2 linked regions of the Homo sapiens genome follow. The protein of the gene in region 1 purifies or fractionates together with the protein of each later gene. This does not show direct contact. Each region holds a gene or a part of one and is shown on either strand. Other genes may lie near its edges.

The links. The genes of interacting proteins can lie anywhere in the genome.
Region 2: the proteins of HAUS2 (region 1) and YBEY purify together in Homo sapiens (affinity purification with mass spectrometry; one large-scale study listed by BioGRID and IntAct). This does not show direct contact.

Annotation. Positions count from the first base shown.
Region 1 is NC_000015.10:42,558,838-42,562,337, reverse strand, and holds part of HAUS2 (HAUS augmin-like complex subunit 2), read right to left. Parts: intron 3,000-3,500; coding exon 2,930-2,999; intron 1,557-2,929; coding exon of another isoform or gene 1,468-1,556; intron 1,069-1,467; coding exon 936-1,068; exon of another isoform or gene 648-935; intron 1-647.
Region 2 is NC_000021.9:46,289,342-46,292,841, reverse strand, and holds part of YBEY (endoribonuclease YbeY), read right to left. Parts: intron 1,509-3,500; coding exon 1,380-1,508; coding exon of another isoform or gene 1,353-1,379; exon of another isoform or gene 324-1,352; intron 1-323. UniProt on the Homo sapiens protein: Single strand-specific metallo-endoribonuclease involved in rRNA maturation.

The DNA.
Region 1 (3,500 bases):
AGGCATGAGCCACTGTGCCCAGCCTTGTTTTGTTTTTTTGGAAGAATAAGTTTTTGTATATCTATTATTTTCCTACAAAATAAAAAATCTGACACTTAAGATACTGATTTGCTTAAGCTAGTGAGGCACTGGCGGAGAAAGTTAGCAATGAGATCCCCAGATGCTTGCTTCGTATTTATTTGAGACAGGGTCTCACTCTGTCACCCAGGCTAGTGCAATCACAGCTCACTGCAGACTTGACCTCCTGGGCTCAGGTCACCCTCCCAGCTCAGGAATACAGGTGTGTTCCATCATGTGTTGCTAATTTTTATATTTTTTTTTTTTGTAGAAACAGGGTTTTGCCATGTTGTCCAGGCTAGTATTTATCATTAGTCATAATCTACATCTTCAATTTGATACTTGTAATACTCTGTGAGGAAGAGGGCAATAGAACTCATCTCTATTCTATTTATTGGGAAACTAAGGCAAAAATGTAAATCATTTGCTCAAGGCTTTGAGGCATATAAACAGTAGAGATGAGAACAGAATCCAGGTTTTTTCCTCCCTTAGTTGATAGTGTTTTCATCTGCCCCAGTTAAACCCCGCCAATAGAATTTTTACATATAGGCAACATTAACTCAACAATGAATGTACTTTACAACAATGAATTTACTTCACATACAAACAGTTTTTATTGTTACATGTTATGGATCTAATTTCTTTCATTAAACTCATAATTTATAATTCCCAAAACACGATGGCCAAGTTCTTCCTTTTTGCCATAGGTATAATGGTTTAAAAGCAAAGATTTTCTTTCTGATTTAATATATCACCATTAATAATGTTAACAAATACAATCACTAATTGTTTTATGAATTCTGCTACAAAGTAACTGCAAAACAAAAAGTAAACTCAGAAAACAGGTGTAACTGTTAATTTCTACTTTTCAGTCTAACCTGTGATAAACAGCTTCAATAGGTAAGTTTTCCTGGCACATGGGTTTCAACAGTCTTTGCCTAAGGGATCTCTTCTCTTTCAGCACTGCTTCCAAATGATTATTCATGCTTTGCAGAGTATGACACTTCTGAGCTATACAAATTAAAAAACAGTAATTATAGTTAGCAATAGGACAAATAACAGAATAATTTCTTCTTTGCCTTGGTTTGACACTACCCATGTCAAAAATTCATCCTATCATTACCCTCCTGTCTCCTTTTTGCTGTCTTTAATACCAATACCAATTTCATTTTCAACAACTTTCTCTTAGTCGGTTTTTGTATATCTAATATATTTCTATTATCTCTTTTCCTAGTGATAACCAAATCTAGTGCTAAATTCTTTCTCTGTGTTTCTCATCTCTACTTCTTATTCAGTTCTTATAGCCAGAGCTATATTCTTAACACAAAGTCTTTTTTCCTATCCCTGACTCTAATAGTCTATAAAAGACCATCGAAAAAGAGTCACCTTAGCTGGTGCTCTAGCTCATACCTGTAATCGCAGTGTTTTGGGAGACTGAAACGGGAGAATTGAGGCCATGAGTTCGAGACCAGCCTGGGCAACATAGCAAGACTTCATCTCTACAAAAAAATTGAAAAAACAAAAATTAGCTGGGCATGGTGGCACATGCCAGTAGTCCTAGCTACTTGAGAGAATCAGTTGAAACCACGTGTTGAAGTTACAGCGACCTGTACTTCAGCCTGGGTTACAGAGTGACACACTCTTAAAAAAAAAAAAAAAAGTCATCCTACAAGCTATTTCTGATTATCTCATTATTTTCCCCATTCAGTTAATGGCTGCCAATTGACCTTTCTTTAAAATTCTTCTTTGGAAAAATTCAGATTTGCAGAAAAGTTTCAAAAAAAGCTTGGTGAACTCACACATACATTTTACTTATTCACCGATTATTAACATTTGGCTACATTTTCTTTTTATCTTCTTTCTCTCTCTTCTCTCTCTCTCTCTCTCTCTCTCTAATTTTTGCTGATCCACTTTAGAGTAAGCTGCAGACAGCATGATATTTTTTACCTGTAAAACGTTAGCATGTATTTCCCAAGAAGAGGAACATTCTCCTATATAACTACAGCACATTATCAAATTCAAAAAATAACATTAATACAATACTACCAATATTTAATACAGTCCATATTTAAACATCACTAAGTATCCCAATAATGTCCTTTACAGCAAAAAGAATTTTAATTTTTGAGACAGGGTCTCACTCTGTCACCCAGGCTGGAGTGGAGTGCTACGATCACAACTCATTGCAGCCTCGACCTCCCAGGCTCAAACAATCCTTCTGCCTCAGCCTTTCATGTAACTGGCACTACAGGTACATGCTACAATGCTGGCTAGTTTTTGTATTTTTTTTGTAGAGATAGGGTTTCACCATGTTGGCTGGTCTTGAACTCCCGGGCTCAAGCAATCCACCCACCTTGGCCTCCCAAAGTGCTGGGTTTACAGGCGTGACTCTCCACGCCTGGCCACAAGAACATTTTCTCATCAAATATTCAAAACATTGCCAGCCATGGTGGTATGTACCTGTGATCCCAGCTACTTGGGAGGGTGATTTGGGAGGACTGCTTGAGCCATTCAGGACTACCCTAGGCAACATAGGAAGACCCCATCTCATTAAAATAAAAAATCGATCCATGATCATACAGTGCTTTAGTTGTCATGTCCCTTTAGTCTCTTTTAATCTGAAAAGTTCCTCAGACTTTGTCTTTCAAGTTCTCCTGACTTTGAAGAGCCAATTTGGTGACTTTTTATGCTATTTGTACTACTCAAGCCAACAGAACTTCTATTTCAGCATAGAAATACAAGATTTCATTAGCTTTGGGACAACACCTGGAAAAATGATGGTGTATCATAATTTGACTGACTGGTGCTTATTTACAGTAATCCAAGAAAAAGTTGAAATTCCAGTGATTATCCACTTAACCAAACCACTTACCCAAAAAGAAAGGATGAACAACATCTGCTGTATCTTTTTCTAGTTTCAGGAGTTCAATTTCCAGGTTTTTCTACATGAGGAACAAAAGTAACATTTAGCTCAATCAGAAAGTGTCCATGGCCAGGTGCGGTGGCTCACTCCTGTAATCCCAGCACTTTGGGAGGCTGAGGCAGGTGGATCACCAGAGGTCAGGATGTAGTGAGCCGAGATTGTGCCACTGCACTCCAGTATGGGTGACAGAGTGAGACTCTGTCTCAAAAAAAAAAAAAAAAGAGTCCAGGGGATTTACTGAAGTTTTTCATTTTGCTGTTCTTGCCCTGCTGCTGCTACTCTTACTACTATTACTGTAACTACTATTAGTAAGTAAACATGTAGCTAGCTAGTTATGTGCTAGACACTGTTCTAAGTTCAAAGGAATTGCTGTTTGAACCAATAAAGTTTTTTTGTTTTTGAGACAGGGTCTCCGTCTGTCACCCAGGCTGGAGTGCAATGGCCCAAACATGGCTCACTGCAGCCCCGATTTCCTAGGCTCAAGTGATCCTCCCAGCTCAGCCTCCCAAGTAGCTGGGAC
Region 2 (3,500 bases), on another chromosome or scaffold:
CCACTGAGTCCCGGGCACGGGTCAGGCTAACCGCGGGAGGAATTTAATCTAGAGTTTAACTTGTGTGGCTGACTCCACTGAGTCCCGGGCACGGGTCAGGCTAACCGCGGGAGGAATTTAATCTAGAGTCTAACTTGCGTGGCTGTCCCCACTGAGTCCCGGGCACGGGTCAGGCTAACCGCGGGAGGAATTTAATCTAGAGTTTAACTTGCGTGGCTGTCCCCACTGAGTCCCGGGCACGGGTCAGGCTAACCGCGGGAGGAATTTAATCTAGAGTTTAACTTGCGTGGCTGTCCCCACTCAGTCCCGGGCACAGGCCAAGCTAACCACGGGAGGAATTTAATCTAGAGTTTAACTTTAAATCAAGAATAGTAATCATCCCTCCCTAAAACGAATCCCCTCCTTGCTCAAGACCGAAGCCACCTCTGTGAAGCTTGTGAAGGGCCACAAGATTAGGATGATGGGAGGGGCCTGAATTCTGCTCAGATGTAGGTGTCCTGAGGAGAACCAGCCCGCAGGCCTTGCTTCCCCAGCTTGCCCTGCTGTAATTCCCTACTGCTCAGGACTCACGCAGCCAGAGGTCACGAGATTTGTGACCGCCCCAATTGCTCCCCAATAAGATAACGTCAATAGTACAACCTAAGAATGGTCTTTTGGGATGTTTTTCAGACTTTTGAGTTCTGGCAACCTACAGACTCCACCTGGACCTGAGACTCATGACTCAGCTGATCCCGTGGCTCCACGCAGAGGCGGACTCAGGGGACAAAAATCGTTGACACCCCATGGTCCGTCTGCAGCCGATCAGCAGCAGGCATTCCCTAGCCCCTGCCTGCCAAATTGCCTGTAGAAACTGTAGCCTCTGAGTTCTCTGGGAGATTGAGTTGAATAATAACTCCAGCCTTTCTGCTTGGCTAGCTCTGTGTTAAACTCTTTCTCTACTGCAATACCACAATTGCAGTGAATTGGTTTTGTCTGTGCAGTGGGCAGGAAGAACCCATAGGTGGATTACACTGAGGAGAAACAGATCTGGAAGGTGGTGGAGGCTCCAACTTCTGTACTTCTGGCAGCTCAGAAAGAAGCTGATTCAGCAGGTCTGTGTTAGCTCAACATAGTCTGCTCTACTCCAGAGATAAAAGCTGAGAAGGCTTCTCTGGGAGCTTCTGTGTTTTCACAGCGTGTTCTCTCCCTCCTTCAACTGTGGCATGGGGCATGCAGTCCCTACCCAGCCTGGGTGCTCCTCACACCCTGCTTACAGGTTCTTCCCCCAGTAGCCCTTACGGTACCCACGGACACACATGGATGCAGGGTTGTGATCTTGACCCCTTTGCAAGGCCCATGTTCCATGAGCCAGGTTATATGATTTCAGCATCCCCGCTTACAGTCAGGACGTCATTGTAATCTTCATTTTCTTTACACTGATGGAAGATATACTCCACTCCTAGGAAAATGTCTCCCAAATTGTAGTCATCTGGAAAATCAGGCTGGGGAAATTCACCTGCTTTCAGATGCTAAAAAATGAGGAAATGTAGACTTAGAGAACAGGAAACGTAACCCAACCACAGGTTGACAGGTTTCATCCTGGTTAATCCCAAGGCAAATAAGCACTTATCTCTGAGCCAAATCACTTTTTTTTTTTTTTTTTTTGAGACGGAGTTTCACTCTTGTTGCCCAGGCTGCAGTGGAATGGCGCGATCTCGGCTCACTGCAACCTCTGCCTCCCGGGTTCAAGTGATTCTCCTGTCTCAGCCTCCTGAGTAGCTGGGATTACAGGTGCATGCCACCGTGCCCAGCTAATTTTTGTATTTCTTTTTTTTTTTTTTTTCCTGAGACAGAGTTTCCCTCTTGTTGCCCAGGCTGGAGTGTCCGCCTCCTGGGTTCAAGCAATTCTCCTGCCTCAGCCTCCCGAGTAGCTGGGACTACAGGCATGCGCCACCACGCCCGGCTAATTTTGTATTTTTAGTAGAGACTGGGTTTCTCCGTGTTGGTCAGGCTGGTCTCAAACTCCCAACCTCAGGTGATCCACCCGCCTTGGCCTCCGAAAGTGCTGGGATTACAGGCGTGAGCCACCGCGTCTGGCCTAATTTTTGTATTTTTTAGTAGAGATGGGGTTTCATCATATGGGTCAGGCTGGTCTCGAACTCCTGACCTCAGGTGATCTGCCTGCCTCAGCCTCCCAGAGTGCTGGGATTACAGGCGTGAGCCACTGTGCCAGCCACCCAAATCACTCTTAAGATGCATGTCTCAGGCCAGAGTGGCAGCTGGGCCTGTGGCGGGTGGGTTGCCCAGCCAACCGTACACAAGTGCCCTAAATTGTTTCCATTGTGAAAATTGTCAGAATAGCCAGGCGTGGTGGCTCACAGCTGTAATCCCAGCACTTTGGGAGGCCGAGGCGGGCAGATCAAGAGGTCAGGGGTTTGACACCAGCCTGACCAACATGGTGAAACCCCATCTCTACTAAAAATACAAAAATTAGCCAGGTGTGATGGCACATGCCTGTAACCCCAGCTACTCGGGAGGCTGAGGCAGGAGAATCGCTTGAACCTGGGAGGCGGAGGTTGCAGTGAGCCCCTAGACTGCGCCATTGCACTTCAGCCTGGCTGACAGAGCAAGACTCCGTCTCAAAAAAAAAAAGGAATTTGTCAGAATAAAAATGGAGCCATTAGGGTTATACAAACAAACCAAAAAACCTGACAAATAGAGCTGGGGAAAGCTATGAAGAGAGGATTCTCATACTTCCATGCCTGATAACAAAAACTGTCACTAAAGATGGCAAAAACTGCAACAAAGGCTATGACAACCTTACACACATACAAAACTGCAACCTTGCACAAAGGCTATGACAACCTTACACACACACACGAAACTGCAACCTTGCACAAAGGCTATGACAACCTTACACACACACAAAACTGCAACCTTGCACAAAGGCTATGACAACCTTACACGCACACAGAAACTTCTGCAAGGATAATCTGCCCAGCAACTGCCTGTCTAACCTTGGACGGACATTAATCTTGTTATTGATCTTTGCAACCAAGGATCATTATCTCAAAACAATTATGTTTTTTTCCTTTAAAAACCTTTGCCAGGCGGGGCTCAGTGGCTCACGCCTGTAATCCCAGCACTTTGGAAGGCAGAGGCGGGTAGATCACCTGAGGTCAGGAGTTCTAGACCAGCTTGGCCAACATGGTGAAACCCCAACTTTACTAAAAATACAAAAAAAAAAAAATTAGCCAGATGTGGTGGTGGGCGCCTGTAATCCCAGCTACTCGGGAGGCTGAAGCAGGAGAATCGCTTGGACCTGAGAGGTGGAGGTTGCAGTGAGCCGAGATTGTGCCATTGCACTCCAGCCTGGGTGACAGAGCAAGCCTCCGTCTCAAAAAAAAAAAAAAAAACAAAACCCTTGCCTTCCTTTACCTCCCTGAATATGCGAATATCCACACAGTCTACTATGGCATGTGGCATGTATTTTCACTGCAATGCTCTATCCCAAATAAACA